Linked DNA regions of Homo sapiens: region 2 is linked to region 1. The links come from fine-mapping of genetic effects on gene expression. Tissue or cell type: esophagus mucosa. Region 1 holds a variant in brackets; the other region holds the start of a gene. All regions are shown on one strand. Distances are from middle to middle.

Region 1 (8,260 bases):
CCCTCCCCACTCTAGGAGCCCCGGGCTGTACTTCCCCTCCTTTCCTCTCAATTGCACCCTTAAGAACATTGCTCCTAAATGTTGTACCAGCGGCATTGACTCCACCTGGAAGCTTGTCAGAAAAGTGGAATCTTAGATTTCATCTCAGCACTACTGAATCAGAATGTGTGTGTTAACATAACTCCCAGGTGATCCACATACACATTAAAGTTTGAGAAGTGCTGTTTTAGAAAATATTACGGCAAGGCCCCAATCCACTGCATAACAGAATCCTAGGCACCCCAATATTCATGCCACATTTCCTTTGGTTCTGACCCTCTTTGCTGAAAATTTGCTTTCCTACCTTGGTAAAGGCAGTATTATGAACAAACACAAATTAATAAATATCTGTTGAGTGACTCCTTCTGTGAATAAAAGTAGCCCTTGAAGAGCAACTTCATGATTTGCAAAGTAGTTTCACATGAATCCTCTCATTTTACACTCTCAAATCCTTGGGAGGCTCATGGGGACAGGTATTGCCAACTCCTACTGCAGAAGAGCCAAGCTCAGGGCCCTGGGGAGAGTGGCACAGTCAACCTCCAAGGTGGCACCTCTGATCCCCATCTGGTGGAAACGTCCCAGCTCAACGCAGATCAACCATAGTGTTAAGAGGAAAGGATGGACTACTTTAAAACATTTTTATTAACAGAGTTCATCAGAAATTCCTTTTTTTATGTAAGTCTTCTTATTGGAAACACAAATGAGCTCTACATGCTCTAGCAATAAACAATATATGTCCTTCAATAAAATACGTTTTGAAGATGAACACATTTTTAAAGGTTTTAACAGTTTCTCCTATTGTCCCTGTGTCTTCCATAGCATCTATCAACATAATTTGTCCATAATAGTAAAAAATATTTCATAATTAATGGATGGATGGATAGATGACCAACTGGAGGACTTGGCAGAACACATACTAAACTCTCCCAGCTCCAGTTTCCACTTCTGTAAAATGAGGCTAATATCTACCTATGTCAGGCTTCTATGAGGCTCACATAGCAATGCAAGTGAATATGCTTTGTAAACTGCAAAAGGCCACACACATGCAAGGGATGATAGTATGAACTCCCATCAATCTCACACACAGATACAGTAGGCAGCTATTTGGTAAGAATTCAGGGGGCCTTTGTGCCCCCAACTCACCCAATAAACTCACTGATATCTCATCTGTAAAGTATCATTCCTTAGAGTCTTGGGTCTTTTAAACAAAGAATCGCCTAATTAATGAAACCAGCAGCAGAGGGAGGAGGAGAGAGGGAGGGAGAGAAAGACTGAGACACTGTGTGTGTGTGTGTGTGTGTGTGTGTGTGTGTGTGTGTGTGTGTGTGTCGTGGGACCTGTGTGTGTGTGTGTGTGTGTGTGTGTGTGTGTGTGTGTGTCGTGGGACCAGAGGTGGTGGGGTAGTGTTAAGACTGACTCTTTTATTAATTTACCCAAAGCAGGAATTTGCAGGAATGGGACCTAGGCTTGGAGGCTGAGGAGGGTGGGTGGATGCAATAAGGCCACAAGATAAGGTGGGGAAGAACTGATCTCAGGGGAGACCCCTTGAGGATAGAATGGACAGACGACCCCCTACTGGCTCTTCTCTTCTAACTCTGAAGGCTGGACTTCGATCCAGAGCACATCTCTAGATTCTGTCCCTTTTCAGCGGCTGAGTGAGGAAAAACTTGGAATAGCAACACTTGCAAAGGGTGTGAAATTAATCTGCATTAGTGGGAAGGTTTAGCAATAGCACTCTATCATAGGCAGTGCATTGCTCTGGCAGAGACCTAGACACACTTTGCAGACTGCAAAATCATGTCCTTACAGGGCATCCAATGCTTCCAGCATCACCAGGATTCGCCTACTTCTTTGCTGACCCATGGTGGCATTACCTGGGTTTAATCAGCTGAGTGATCAAGAGCAAATCAGTCATCCTGTCTTGGGTCTTAAGTTTCTTTTCTTTCTTTTCCTTCCTTCTTTTCTTTTCTTTACTTTTCTTTTCCTTCTGACAGAGTCTTGCTCTGTCACCCAGGCTGGAGTGCAGTGGCGCAATCTCAGCTCACTGCAACCTCTGTCTCCCAGGTTCAAGTGATTCTCTTGCCTTAGCCTCCAGAGTAGCTGGGATTACTGGTGTGTGCCATCACACCTGGCTATTTTTTGTATTTTTAGTAGAGACGGGGTTTCACCACGTTGGTCAGGCTGGTCTCAAACTCCTGACCTCAAGTGTCTGCCTGCCTCAGCCTCCCAAAGTGCTGGAATTACAGGCATGGGCCATGGCACCTGGCCTATCACACCTTTTAAAATTAACAATAATTCTTTAATGTCATCAATATCCATTTGGTGTTCATATTTCCCCCATGTGCCTTAACTTTTTTTTACAGTTTGTTCCATCAAATCAAAACCCAAGGAAGGTCACATATTGCAAATGATATGTCTCTTAAGCCTCTTTTAATCTTTAGGTTCTTCTCTCTCTCTCTCTCTCCCTTCCCAGAGCTCCCCTCCATCCCTCCATTTTTCTCTTTTTCTTATACTTCATTTGTCATAAATACCAGGTCTTTTGACCTATACCATTTCTCACTGTCTGGATTTTATTGGCCACTTCCTGATAGTATTGTTTACATGTTCCTCTGCCCCCTGTATTTCCTGTAAATGAGTAGCTGGATCTAGAGGCTTGATCAGATTCAGGTTTGAGTTTCTTGCAAGACTCCTTCATTGGTGGTGCTGTGTGTTCCCATCAGGAGGCGCCTAACGTTGGCTATCTCTCTTTGTGATATTACCAGCTTCTGATGATCAATGCCTAGATCCATTAATTCAACAGGGGGACCCTCACTTTTTAAAAAAATCCTCATCATAATCTATGGCTTGCCTCATGCTGATACCTTTGCCTGGATGGGGCAGCTTGGTTTAGACAAGTGTTCTGAGGACTTTGAGCACCTTAGTGGGATAGAGACTTTCAGAGACATTACTGCCCCTCTTCAAGGGTGGAGATAGGGGTCTCTGCTAGGCCTCAATGGAAACTGCTGGCTGGTTTGGTGGGGTCTTTCCCCTCAGCTTGCATAACAATAATTCCACAGTGGGCCCCTTGGTTTGGCAGCGGGCTTTCGCACAGGCTCCAGGGCACACATACAAAAGCACTAAGCA[C/T]GTGCAGCACCGCTCCTGAGTCATCCAAGGACACAACCCAATGATCCTGTAACTCTGAGAGCCACACCCTCCCTTTCAGCAGCCACAGGTTGTTCTCTGACCTTACACTCTTGGCTTCAGTGCCAAATCAGTGATGACTTATCTTTCCTTTGAAACGTTAATTCCTTCTACTCCCAGAGTTCCTTTGAGATGAAGGTTTTCATGAGCTTTCAAAACACTCTCTTACCTAATCCTCCTAGCACTTAAGTAAGGATGAAAGGTGACTAGCCGAGAGACCCCACTTCCCAAACAGGGAAACTGAGCCCAAAGCTTAACTGATCCACCTGCTGTTGTGCTCTGGCCTCAGGCCCCCACTTCAGGGTGCAAGATTGTGGGTTTGACAAGACAAAGACATGTCTTCTGAGTGAACCCAATACCCATCCTTGAGTGGTGCTCTGTCCTGTGGTCTCAGGGAAGCCAAGAGGCTCTTCTCAGGAGGGGTATCCAGTTAGCTCAGGGCAAGTCATCCTACCTAGATTTTCCCAAAGAGCAGTAATTTCAAACCCTTTGATTCACTTTCAGGCTCTGTGTGTGAGGTTGTGTGTTTGATCAAGGGTTTGGTAAGTTCAGCCACCACAGATACTAGATACAAGAGCAGAAACTTACCTTTCCTTGACCTAAGTCATAGATGCCAGCCCAAGAATATCATGTGCAGTTCCGGAAAGATGTGCAGGTGCTGGAGAAGATGTGGAAAGGGAATGTCTGAAGCAACTCAGAGGGTGGGAGGACAGCCATGTGCCCTCCCAACATAGGAATGGGCTTATACCAATCTGCCCAGAGTCCCTCATGCCTAAGGCCAACAGCAAATACTGGGAAACAGATAGCCAAGGTAGGGGTGGGCAGGGGAGGAAAACAAAAAACTGTCTTGCCCACAAAGGAGAAGAAGTAAACACAAAGACTAGATCTGGGAGAAGAACCAGATTCAAACCACATAAAACTCTGCAACATGGCTGGGCATGGTGGTGCGTGCCTGTAATCCCAGCTACTCAAGAGGCTGAGGTGGGAGGATCACTGGAGACCAGGAGTTCAGGACCAGCCAGGGCAACATAGTGAGATCCTGTCTCTAAAAAGAAAAAAATTTTTTAATTAGCTAGGCGTGTTGGCACACATTTGTAGTCCTAGCTACTTGGGAGGCTGAGGTAGAAAGATCACTTGAGCCCAGAAGTTTAAGGCTGCTGCAGTGACCTATGATCGGATTATTGCAATCCAGCCTGGGTGACAGAGCCAGATCCTGACTCAAAAAAAAAAAAAAAAAACCCCACAAAAAACCCTCTGCAACACGTACAAACCCAGCCAGCTCAGCATGGTTCTCCCTATGGCCTCTCCTGGCATCCCATCACTCCTGAGAGGGTGTCAGGACCAACCCACACTGAGTGGTCTCCGCTCACCACACTGGTCCATCCAGCTTTCCCAGACCAACCTGATCCTTCCGCCACCAAAGCAGCACCTGCCACCAAGATGTGTAGCCACCTGAGTTCTGACACATGTAGCTTTTGCCAATTTAACAAAAAACAGTCAGGAGGCAGAATGTCAGCCTTTACCATCAGAGGCCATAAGCCCCCAGACTGACCAGCCAGGGAGCAAAAATGACTTTTTTCTCCTTATATCATGTCCTGGTCTATACAGTATATGTCAGCCCTTGGCAACCACCAGCTAAGGACGTACAACATCGTCACCTATATTAGACGCTCAAGAGAAGCAAGGAACTCCCCCAACTCCATTCCCACTTCACCAAAGCAGGGCAGAAACAACCAAGAAAGACGTCAGAGATCCCCCAGTATACAATAAAACTTGGCAAACCTCATGGAACCATGGAAATAAAAGGAATTTCTTACCGTCACCTCACTTTATAAATGGGGAAACTGAGGCCTAGCAAAGGAAAGGAACTTGCCCACATCACCTATTCTCCCGGGCAGTGACAGATGCAGGACCAGACAGGTCTCCTGTCAGGTGGCCCCATTCTCTTCCCTTCTCACCCTGCCTCATGTGTCAGACAACTCATCCTTGGTGCCTGCCAGGGGAAGGCCTGGCAGCTGGAGGAGGTGAGGCCAAGTACAGATTACATCAATCTAGCAGGTAGCCAAGAAGGAAGTAGACATTATTCTTCCCTCCCACCCATAGGGAGCCCGACTCCAGGAAGTCACTGAAATGCAGGGAGGCTCAAACCTTAACTCGGAAAAACCTGCATGGGCTGCAGGGGAGAGGATCTAAAGGCAGTGGTGGGCCCACCCTCACTTTACTGTGCTTTTTCACTTTACAAGTGATCTTTCCACCTCAGCCTCCCAAGTAGCTAGGACTACAAATGTGTGCCAACCTCTCCTAGCTAATTGAAAAAAAAATTTTTTTTTTAGAGACGGGGTCTCACTATGTCATCCTGGCTGGTCCTGAACTCCTGGTCTCCAGTGATCCTCCCACCTCAGCCTCTCGAGTAGCTGGGATTACAGGCACGCACCACCATGCCCAGCCAACCTTTCTCATTCCCTTTCACACAACCCTTTCTCACTCTTCTCAAAATGACCTGAAGGTACAGGGTCCCCTCAGCCTGTTTTCTGGCCCCCACTCAGTTTCCAGTTCCCCCCAGTCTTCCTTCCTCTCCCCTATCATGGCAATCTGTCCCCTGCTCACATTTCATCTTAGCTCCAGCCAGAGCTCTCCATCCTCCAAGAGCCAGTAGGAAACCTCTCCTGCCTCCTGATCTCCCAGCCTCAGAGAAAGTCAATGCTGGGAAGGCAGGCACAGGTCCCCTCCTGGAGGGGGACAGGCTTACTCTGCACAGGAGTTTCCCAAAATCCCCTTGGATAGCTCTGTGATGCTTCTCCTAACAGTTACCTGATGCCTGCAGTTTGTTTAACTATAAAATTCTGCATAAGGGACTGAGAGTCCGACTTTTTTGGCACATCAAATAGCTTGGAGCATACAACTATGTTTGCTGTGTGCCATTTAGCACTAAATGTCAAGACGATACAGTCCAAATGTTCATCATCTAGTGAATAGATGAACAAAAGGTGGTGTAGCCATACAACTGGATATTATTTGGCAATTAAAAGGAAAAAAGTACTGATCCATGCTATATCATGGATGGACCTTGAAAATACTATGCTAAGTGAAAGAAGCCAGTCACAAAGGACCGCATGTTGTATGATTGCACTTTTACAAAATGTCTAGAACAGGCAAATCCACAGACAGAAGGAAGATTAGTGGTTGCCTAGGGCTAGTGGGTTTGGGAGAAGCAGAGAGTGACTGCTAATGGGTAAGGGGGTTTTTTGGTAATGAAATGTTCTAAAATTGATGATGATGATGGTCACACAACTCTGAATACATTAAAGCCATTTAATGGCTTTAATACACTATATGCGAATGTACTAATGGCTTTAGGACACTATAAATGGGTGAATTGTATATAAATTATATCTGTTTTTTTAAAAAAGAACCATAAAAATACTCACATGCTTTCACCAGGTGATATCAACTCTACCCTATATGCAGGTTCTTTATGAAGCACTTTTCATATATTGGCCTCAGACAGTATCTCAACACCCTGCACAGTCAGTGCTCTCCCCATTATAGAGATCAGGAAGTTGAGACTCACAGAGTTACAGTCACAGAGCCAATTTGCCACAGATCTAGAACTTAAAGTCAGATTATCTGAGTCCAGGTGCATTGTATTCTGGGAATTTGGCCTCTAGAGAGACTTCAAATGAAAGAACATAGTTTCATAGACAAGAAAAAGCTGGAAACAAGCTAAGCATTCTCCACTAAGGAACAGCTTTGGCAATCAGATGTTCTGGATGCAATAGACAATTATATAAACATTAAAATAGCAAGTATGAACATCATAAGGGACATGTTTATAAAATAATAAGTGAACATGCACAAATGATATGTATGGTTTGATTCAATTTTTGTATTAGAGAACACAGATGCAAAAGTGCATGAGGATAACAAATAGTTGAGTGAAACTTTTCCTTTTAAAATTTCCTGTGTTTTAAAAGTAAGAAAATGAGAAGAAACACCTGCATAGACATCCCTAACCAACAGAGCAGTGCACTGCTGTCATCCAATCAAGGGTGTACTTGAGGGACAGGCCACAGAGCTGCAGCATCACCAAGGGCCTTACAGATGACAGGGGAGGAAAGGGTAGGATCCCCTTTTCAGTCTGCAAACATAAGACCTCTTTGTTTAAAGGAGGCATAGGAAAGTTGGCCAGAATTTATTGTCACAGCTGATCCTTCCCTCAAGGTGTCCTGGACATGAGGCCCTCCTCTATTTTCACCTCCTGTGCATACCTCCATCATGGGATTCAGCCCATTTTACTGAAATTCTCTATATATTATTCTCCCTTAGTAGACTGTAATTGTCCAGCCTTGTACCCCCAGGCACCAACTACAGTGGATACACAGTAGATCTGCAGTGCATGTTTTCTGAATGGACTTGGGCTAGTATCTCTTCATTACCTGCCATCCTCCTGAGCTAGACTTTTACAGACCAACACTTAGTACAGCTTCCTGATCAGTGTTGCTGTCTTCAGCCCTCCACCCACACACCCAATCCACACCCCACATTCCCCAGTATATTGTCCTACAACGCAGACATCATCATGTTCTCTGCTCAAGATTATTTTCTCCTTCCCATCAAGCCTGAGCTCCTTGGCCAGGCCCCAGGGGCCTTTCACCACCTAGCCTCATTCTACTTGCCCAAATGTACTCTGCTTCCCAGCAGACACACCCCAACACACTCATTTCCACCTCTGGGTTTCTGCTAGCCCTATTTGCCTAAACTAGGAGGTCGTCTGCCTACCCAAATGCTACTCCTGTTTTAAGTTCAAGTTCCAGCTCCTCCTGGAAGTCTTCCCTGACCATGCCACCCCCCAGGAATCCTCACCTTGGAATATGTTAGCTCCTAAAGTTCAGTACACTTAATTGTCTCTTTATGCTCATTTCTTTACTGTGTTTGCCTTTCCCCCCGCCCCTAAATTAGGTTAATCTGTTAAGGGCAGGGCAATGTCTTACACTTCATCTGTGTGACCCACCACACCCACTGTAAGAGAGGCACCTTACAG
Region 2 (8,000 bases), 41 kb after region 1:
CTAGTGTTGGTGAGTATGTGCGGCAACTAGAGCTCTCAAACACTGCTGGGAGGGGTATACACTGGGACCACCACTTTGGAAAACTGTTCAGCAATTTCTTTGGACATATCTAAGAGAAATGCATGCAGATGTTTTCCCAAATGATCCACGTTAGAATGGTCACTGCAATACTATTAGTAATAACTAAAAATTGGAAACAACCAAATGGTTATCAATAGAAGACTGGATAAACAAATTGAGGTACTATATACCCATACAATGGAATCATTATACAGCAATAAGAATTAACAAACTACTGCTACCTGCAACAACATGGATGAATCTCAGAAACATAATGTTGAATGAAAGTAGACAGACACAAAAGACTGCATACTGTGTGATCCCATTTAGGTAAAATTAATGCATGGTGCTAGATGTCAGCAGAGTGGCTATCCCCTCACTCAGGGGAGAGTTGGAAGGGGAGCTTCGGAGGCTTCAGAGTGCCAGCAATGTTGTTTCCTGATCTGGGTGGTAGTTAGATGGATATATGGGATGATTTTGTATGTGATCAAAATTTTACATAATTTTTTAAAATGAGACTAATGTGAGACAAATGAGATAACCCATGTGTAATGTTTTAAACGGTCCATGGATAACGTGAATTCCTTCCCTCCTCTTTGTGACTTGGAGCCCCATAAGGGCAAGAATTGTGACATTCCTACCTCTGTCCCCTTGTCGTAGGCTAGTACACAGTAGGCACTATATAAGTGTTGGCTGATTTTAACTTAGTTCCCCAGCCTCCTTTCTCAAGGCCGCTACTCAGATGCTCATCAGGTAAAACAACTGATAGCCACTTCAAGCACTTTCCTAACACCTCTCCTAAGGCGAATTTGCATTTTACCAGTTTAGAAACAAACTAAAGGGGTGAAACTGAAGTGGAATTATAGTCACCAGCTAGGACCCAGATAAGGAGCCAGAGGCACAAGGACCTTTCCAGCCTCGAAAAGCTGAAATCACATGGCAGAGGGAAGGGACACAGTTACAACTTTTGGCCAGAAGCACAGGCCATCAGCTCCAGATGCTCCCAGGATGATACCCACCTTAATGCCCATGTTTCTCCTGATGGAGTCCTTGGAATTCAAATTCCTGCCTACAACTCTAATACCAGGCAACACTTCAGGGGGCTACCACAGATTTCCTAGAACCCCATAGATCATCTATTTAGGGATTTTTAGAACTGCTTCAGGATCACCAGGGTGAGAAGGGGAAGCCAGAGCAGTTCCACGTTATCCATACTATATGTTGGCGTTCTGGGTAAGAATTCACTGTGAAACAGAAGTTTGAAAACCACTGCTGTCTGGTCTAACCCACTTGTTTTTACAAGAGGAAGCTGAGATCCAGAAAGGGGAAGGGACTCACTGAGCATCATACAGGTGACCCATCCCGCTCCTCTTCCCAGGGCTTCTTCTGTTGATAGCCACCCCAACTCCTCCAAGATGTCACCAGGGTTGGCAAAGTCAGTGGCCTCCTGAGGGACAAGCTAGGAGGAGGTGTCTAGGGCTGGAAGATCACCTCATAGGAAACTCTCAACACTCAAGAAGCCCTCTCCACCACTGGCCCAGCTCACTCTGCAAAGTGAACTCTCTCAGTTCCTCATCCCACCTCACCAAGTGCAAGTGAGTGAAACGGGACCACAGCAAGAGGGCAGGCAATGGTTGGGCAAAACACACACGACCGTCTCATTACACACACCCCCATTAGGAATCATCACACTCAGGCTCTGGAGAGGCTGCCAACAGAAGGGATGGGGCTCCGGCATTACAGAGCTCCTCTCTACATTCCAGGCTTTGACCCATCACAGTCTCCAATGAGGAAGCTGGGGCCCACAGAAGGTCAGCCACCTGCCTGAGTTGACACAAGAAAAACTTGGTCTCTCTGGCAAAGATCCAGCTCCCTTGGGAAGCCTGCTTGTTCACCCCACAGCTAACAAATCGGGAGGCCTCAAGGAGGTGGGCAGGGTCAGTGCGGGTCTCATTCCTGCCAGCCAGGAACTTACCCCAGAGGAGCAGACCTCCAGCCACATCCACACACCCCTGACCCCTCTGCCCAAGTCTCCTCTGAAGGTGCTGAATCATCAGTGGTGCCACTTGAGGGTGCTCAAAAAACATCTTGGGAGATGAGCGGTTTGGGGAAGGACAGGGCTGTGAAGTTAGCTGTGAAGAGGCCAAGGCACCACGGCCTCTTAGGTCAACAGGACTCTCCCAGGAATATCTTCCACAGAGGCAGTTGGGAGTCGCAGTGTCAGAAACCAGAGTGGCTGCCCTCCACAGGATTCCAGGATACAAGATGTCAGGCGCTGTCCCTGCACCTGCCCGCTTGCCCCCGAGGCAGCCAGCTATGGTGCCCTCTCCTCCAGTGTGCACCACTGCCTTACCATTACCTGCACGGCCTCAACGAGGCTCACCTCTCTGGACCTTGTTTTCTCTTTTGTAAAGTAAGAATACCAATTTCCACCGTGCAGAGTTACGGTGAGGGTTAGCCAGACCTATGCAAGCCTTGGGACCTCCAAAATGCCTAGCCCAGAGTCCTAGTCAACTGTTGGCAACGCCCTTCCAAGCCGTTCCACCCCAACCTGCAGCACACCTGCTGGCCGCCCCCACGCCCATCCTAGCTCTACCCCAGGCCGGGGCGCCTGACGGCGGGGACCCCAGCTTCATTCAGCCCCAGAGGAAGCTCAGACATCTGAGCACCCTCCTCGCATCACATCCTTGTGCCAGGCGGGAGCAAGAGGTGAGAGAGTCAGCCCAAGCTGAGAAGACTTGGCCGGGAGCCGGGCGTGCTCTGCCCGTTCCAGGGGGCCTAACTCGATGGACGTCTGTCTCCCATCTCCCTGCTGGGTGCTTGGCTCTGCCCGCCGCCTCTACCCTGTCTCCCAGGTCAAAGTGCCAGGCTCCGGAGGGCGCCCCAGGGCAGCGGCGGGCAGCTCCCGCGCTCGGGTGCCGGCCACAATGCCCCGGGCCACGGCGTCAGGCATTGGGGCGGCGGGCCCGGGATCTGCGAGCGAGTGCCCCGGATCTCTTCGCCCCGCCAGCCCCAGACCCGGGCGCTGCTGCCGTCAGGCCGCGCGCCCCGTCCCGCCCATCGAGCCCGCAGACGGGTGCTACTCACGGCGGGAGGCTGAGCTGCCGCGGTCGCGGCCGCGGCAGGCGCGGCGGGAGCGGCGGGCGCGGCGGGCGCGGCGGGCGCGGCGGGCGCGGCGGGAACGGGGGACGCGGCGGGGTGCGCTGGGCTCGGCCCTGCAGTCCTCTCCTCCCAGAGCGCCCGGCACCCGCCCGCCGAGCAGCCTAGGAGCCGAGGGGGCGGAGCGGCCAGCCCCGTCCCAGGCGCCGGCTGGAGGCGCGCCCGGCTGCCCGGGACGGGGCTCGGGGCGCCCCCTGCTGGAGCCCCCTCCGGACAGTCCCGGGGCGAGAGCCCAGCTTCCCGGCCGGGTAGGGGACACCTCAGGGCTCCCAGACTCCCGGGAGAGCGGGGAGAGTCGGTAGCAAGACCCTCTGCGCGTCCCTACCGGCTCTACCGCGCACATGCTGCGTGGCCTTGGGCAAGTCGGCTACCCTCCCCCGGCCTTATCTGGAAATCGATTTGAATGAGCTTATACGTATGACATGGTCTGGCACAATCCTCAGAAAATGGTACTTGTGTGCTCCTCTCCCCACCATACACACCGTGAGCGAGGAAGCCCCACTGAGGAATAGGCCGTCTCCTCCCTCCCAGCCAGAGCGCTCCCTACACCGCAGACTCTCCTGGAAACCTCAAGCCCACAGCGTACAGCAAGGTGGGGGCTGCGATGAGAAGGGCCGCTCTGCTCCTCACTGCCCCCGACCCAGCCTGAGAGCGGCCTGCCCTCGTTTGCCCTTTGTCCTGGCACGGTTGCTGAGTGAAGCCCCCCTCTCACCATCACGCCTTCTCTAATAGAGGACTTGGGAATGGGTTCCTCTCTCTGCCCTCTGCCAAAAAATCCCTGAGGAAAAAAGGAATGAGAGTGAGGGGGTGAAGGGAGGAAGGAAGGGAAAACAGAACTTAAGCCAAGTTCATTTGTCTTATTTCAAAACAAGAGGCTGTTTAGAGGAAGCAAATGAGGACCCCTCCAACCCCTGGAATTTCCATCCCTAAGTCACCCATGGGGCTCCTCAAAAGGGCCTTAGATTCAGAGTCCTACCACCAGGTTCAAAGCCCTGCCCTGCCACTCCGCATGTGTGTTCTTGGGCATGGCTCTTTCTTCATCAGTAAAGTGGGAGAAACGCACCTTCCGGTAGCTCCTAATGAAGCTATGGTGGGGCTGAGATGAGATGGAGTGTGTAAGATGCACCTAGAGGACCTCTACCAGTGTGAGCACACACACACCCTTCAGCCTTTTGGACATTGGGACAAATACAGATGGACCCCACCCCCCAGCTGAGCAGTGCCTCCGGGTCCAGGACATCCTCGGCAAAGAGTTCCTTGTTTATAAACTTCACAATAATTCAGAACAGTGCAGCCAGCGAGCCTCCTCTCCTAAGAGCAGCATGATATATAGAGTAATATCCAAGACTAGAGGTGGTTTCTGATGTCAACGGACCTAAGGGAATGACACCCACTGGTGAAGTTTCACCAACATGAGAAGTCCCCCACCAAACTATCCCTAAACACCTCTTCCTCCATTTCCATTTACCTATCACTGGTGACAAACCATTACCAGCCTTGGTGGCACAGGACAACAGTTTCACTATGTTCATGCATTCTGAGGGACAGAAGTTCAGACAGCACAGTGTGTATGGCTTATTTCTGCTCTGCAGTGTCTGGGATTTCAACTGGGAACACCTGAATAGCTGGGGGCTGAAATCATCTGGAGATTTCTCCATTCTCATACCCAGTACCTGGGCTGTGATGAATCCAAGGCTGGGCTCAGCTGACCCTGCTGATCACCTACATGTGGCCTCTCCATCTCTTTCCCTTGAGCCTCATGCTTAATACCTCATTGTCAGCAGCAGCAGCCCCTTACATGAGTCAAAAGAGACATTCTTGGGTTTAGCAATTGACAAGTTAGTCAGAGTCCATTGCAGCTGGAAGGGTCATTGTCAATTGACCCTGGCCACTTTTCAGATGAGGAAACTGAGGCTCGGAGAAGGGAGGTGACTTGCCCAACATCACATAGCTGGTGAGAGACAGAGCTAGGATTAGAACCAGGCCTCCTCCAGATTCAGTCTGGTGCCCCTTCCACTGTACCTGCCAGAATGCAACTATCTAGGAAGCTACCATCTGGAGATGCATCTTATGCTTAAGGTTGGGTGAGTTCATCAGACCCTCACCTGAGGGCAGCGACAGGGCACTGAACACAGGACCAAGGTGGCCATCAGCAGAAAAGGGGAGGCCCCGAGGACAGTGGCAATGAAGACACAAATTCCAGAATGAAGCCAGAGGCAGTCCAGGTATTAAGAGCTAAGAATTATCCAACTCAGTTCCAGTCCCTGCATGGTTCCCATGGCTGACCAAATCGAGTGTTAATGCCTCACCCTAGCATTTAAGGCCCCAACCCTTATTTTCCTGCTGTGTATGCACATTCCCTTCCCTCCTCTGCATGCACATCCAGCTCTTTTGCCAGGTTGGATTATTGGCTGTTCCTGCCTCCATGCTTTTGTTCGTTTCCACTACCCTTCATCCCATTCTACAAAATCTTATCTATCCTCTAAGAGCCTTCTAAAGTATCATGTCTTCCACAGAAACTTCCCTGGTCTGCCCTCTAAATACCTCTCTCCTTTGAACCTCACCACTCTTGGTTGGTACATCTCTTGTCATCTTCCTTCCTCTATTTTAATTAGTGTCTACTTCTCCTTTTCTCAAGGGCAAGTACAATTTCTTGTCCATCTTTGAACCCATACAGTGCTTGATATCCCAAACCCAGTAAAGGTTTCTTAAACTGAATTAAGGAAGGTAAATATCACAAGGGGCCATAGCTGTCTTGTTTTCTATTGTCCCCTAAGAGCACCCAAGCACCTGGCACTTAGTAGATGCTCAATAATCTTACTTCAAGTGCTTCACTTCTAGGGGGATGTCATTATCCTCTTTTACAGATGATGTAACTGAGGCTTGAGAAATTTGATTTGCTCAAACTCATCCAATTTGTAAGTGGCTGAGCTGTGACATGAATCTTGCCTACTGGTCTCTGAAGCTATTCCCTCTGCTGCCTTCCCTCAACTGAAACTTCCAAGATTTCTAAAACAGTGTTAATCTGGAACTTTTCAGTCCAGGCAGTACATCAGAATAACTGAGAATAACATGGGGTGCTTAAAATCCCCCATGCTTAGACTGCACCCTACATCAATTACATCAGAACCTCTGAGGATGAGTTCTGGGTATCAGTTTTTGTTAAACTCCCCAGGTGATTCCCAGTGCACAGGTTGAGACCCAGTCTGTTCATGTCACAGAGACCTAGGGAAATTCTCAACCCCCTCAATGACAAACACATCTGAGTACCTGCTTTGTAAAAGACATTCCAAGGGACTGTGAGATGGTAGAGTCACAGGACCTGTGCTTCCCAGGGATGAGAATACAAGCCCATAGATAAAGATGTAACCATGGCAGGCAGCAAAGGGCACTAGTCATGGTGATATCCTAAAGCATACTTTGGTGCCTGGCAAGTTTACAGAGCCTAAAAACCTCCTGACAAGGGGGCAAGGTGGGGATTAAGATGCTGCATGTTGGCCATGGCAGATGGCACCTGGGTTGGCTTACAGCATGTGTAGTGTGACGGCTAAATGCAGAGACTCTGATGCCAGACTGCCTGGGCCCACACTCAGGCATCCCAGCATGCAACTTACGTGCCATGTGGTCTGGGGCAGGCTATTTGATCTCTCTGTGCCTCATTATCCCCATAGGTCAAATGGAGCTTATAGTAGCATTTATCTCTTGGGTTGTTGTGAGCATGCAGTTACTTTTCAATTCGATCAGTGTCTGGCACTTGGTAAAGTCCGCAATGATTATTAACTGTTATTATTATTCCCTAAATGTCTGGCAATAAGCTCCCCTGGGGAGGAAATGGATCTTATTCATCTCTGCGCCCCATCCCACCCCTAGCCTGGCCCAGAGAATTGCCAAATGCAGTCTGAAATGCAGTCTTCTTGACAACGGGTCAAGTCCTGACTCTCAGGCTCTCGGCCAAGGGAGTGCACAGGTGATTCCTCCCCAGAGGGCTTGCCTACTGGATGGAAGGCCGGCAGGAAGCTGCTTCTTCCCAAACTGACCTGGTGGCCTGGCTTCTCAGCCCTTCCCAGCCATGCCCACTCTGCCCTGTGCCATCTGCCCTCCTAGATGGGAGGTGTGGAGCAGGCTTGGTTTGGCAACCTTTCCTGCTACCCCCCCCACCCCCGGGGGCACTGGTTCTTGCAGCCAGAGGCAGCTGCTTCAGCCTCTAGCCTTGCTGGACTCAGCACCACAGGGATGGGGCAGGGAAGGGGAGGAGAGAAGGGAGGAAGGAGCTGGGGGATGGGAGGCCTTGCCTCTCTCTAGAGAACCTGGGGGATGGGGATTTCCTGGACATGTGTACACACTCTTTTACTCCGCAAACATTCAATAGTACCTCCTGGGGTTATGTGCTGGAGTAGGGGCAAATAAAGACCCAATGCCATAAAAGGTCAGATCTACTCCAGAAGGAGCCTCCAGAGAAAAGGAAAGCTTGATTCAAACTTGAAAGAAGAGTAGGGATCACCGGGAGAACAGAAAAGTCCACAGTGGGGCAAGGGAGGCAGGGCACATGGGGTGTGAGCAGCTGTGCATGTAAAGGGCTGCAGGTATGAAACCACTTGTCATTCACCGCCCCTATTTCCACCTGAGCCAGCACAGGGCCTACGCTATGGGATCATGACCCATGCATATGCCATTGCCTTCTATTCAGGACAGAGGCTGGTGACACATTGTGTGGCCAGGACCCCTCAAACTATACCCACCTTTAGGGCTACAACATCCAACCACCTTCTTCTTTAGGCTCG

What was found. PIP is the estimated chance that this variant, and not a neighbour inherited with it, causes the effect.
Region 2: it holds the start of DAPK2, and the variant in region 1 is fine-mapped to the expression of DAPK2 in esophagus mucosa (GTEx, PIP 0.93).

The regions. Positions count from the first base shown.
Region 1 is chr15:64,001,598-64,009,857 of GRCh38, forward strand. All of the region lies in intron 2 of DAPK2 (death associated protein kinase 2), which reads right to left. Among named protein-coding and RNA genes, the nearest start is that of DAPK2, 41 kb to the right of the region's middle. RefSeq lists a silencer at 8,165-8,224. The variant C/T (reference allele first, on the strand shown) is at 3,163.
Region 2 is chr15:64,043,151-64,051,150 of GRCh38, forward strand. It overlaps DAPK2 (death associated protein kinase 2), which reads right to left and starts at 3,335. Exons shown (of 12, transcript NM_014326.5): 1 at 3,148-3,335. RefSeq lists enhancers at 1,619-1,668, 1,719-1,768, 7,309-7,855 and silencers at 2,969-3,188, 3,219-3,278, 3,299-3,508.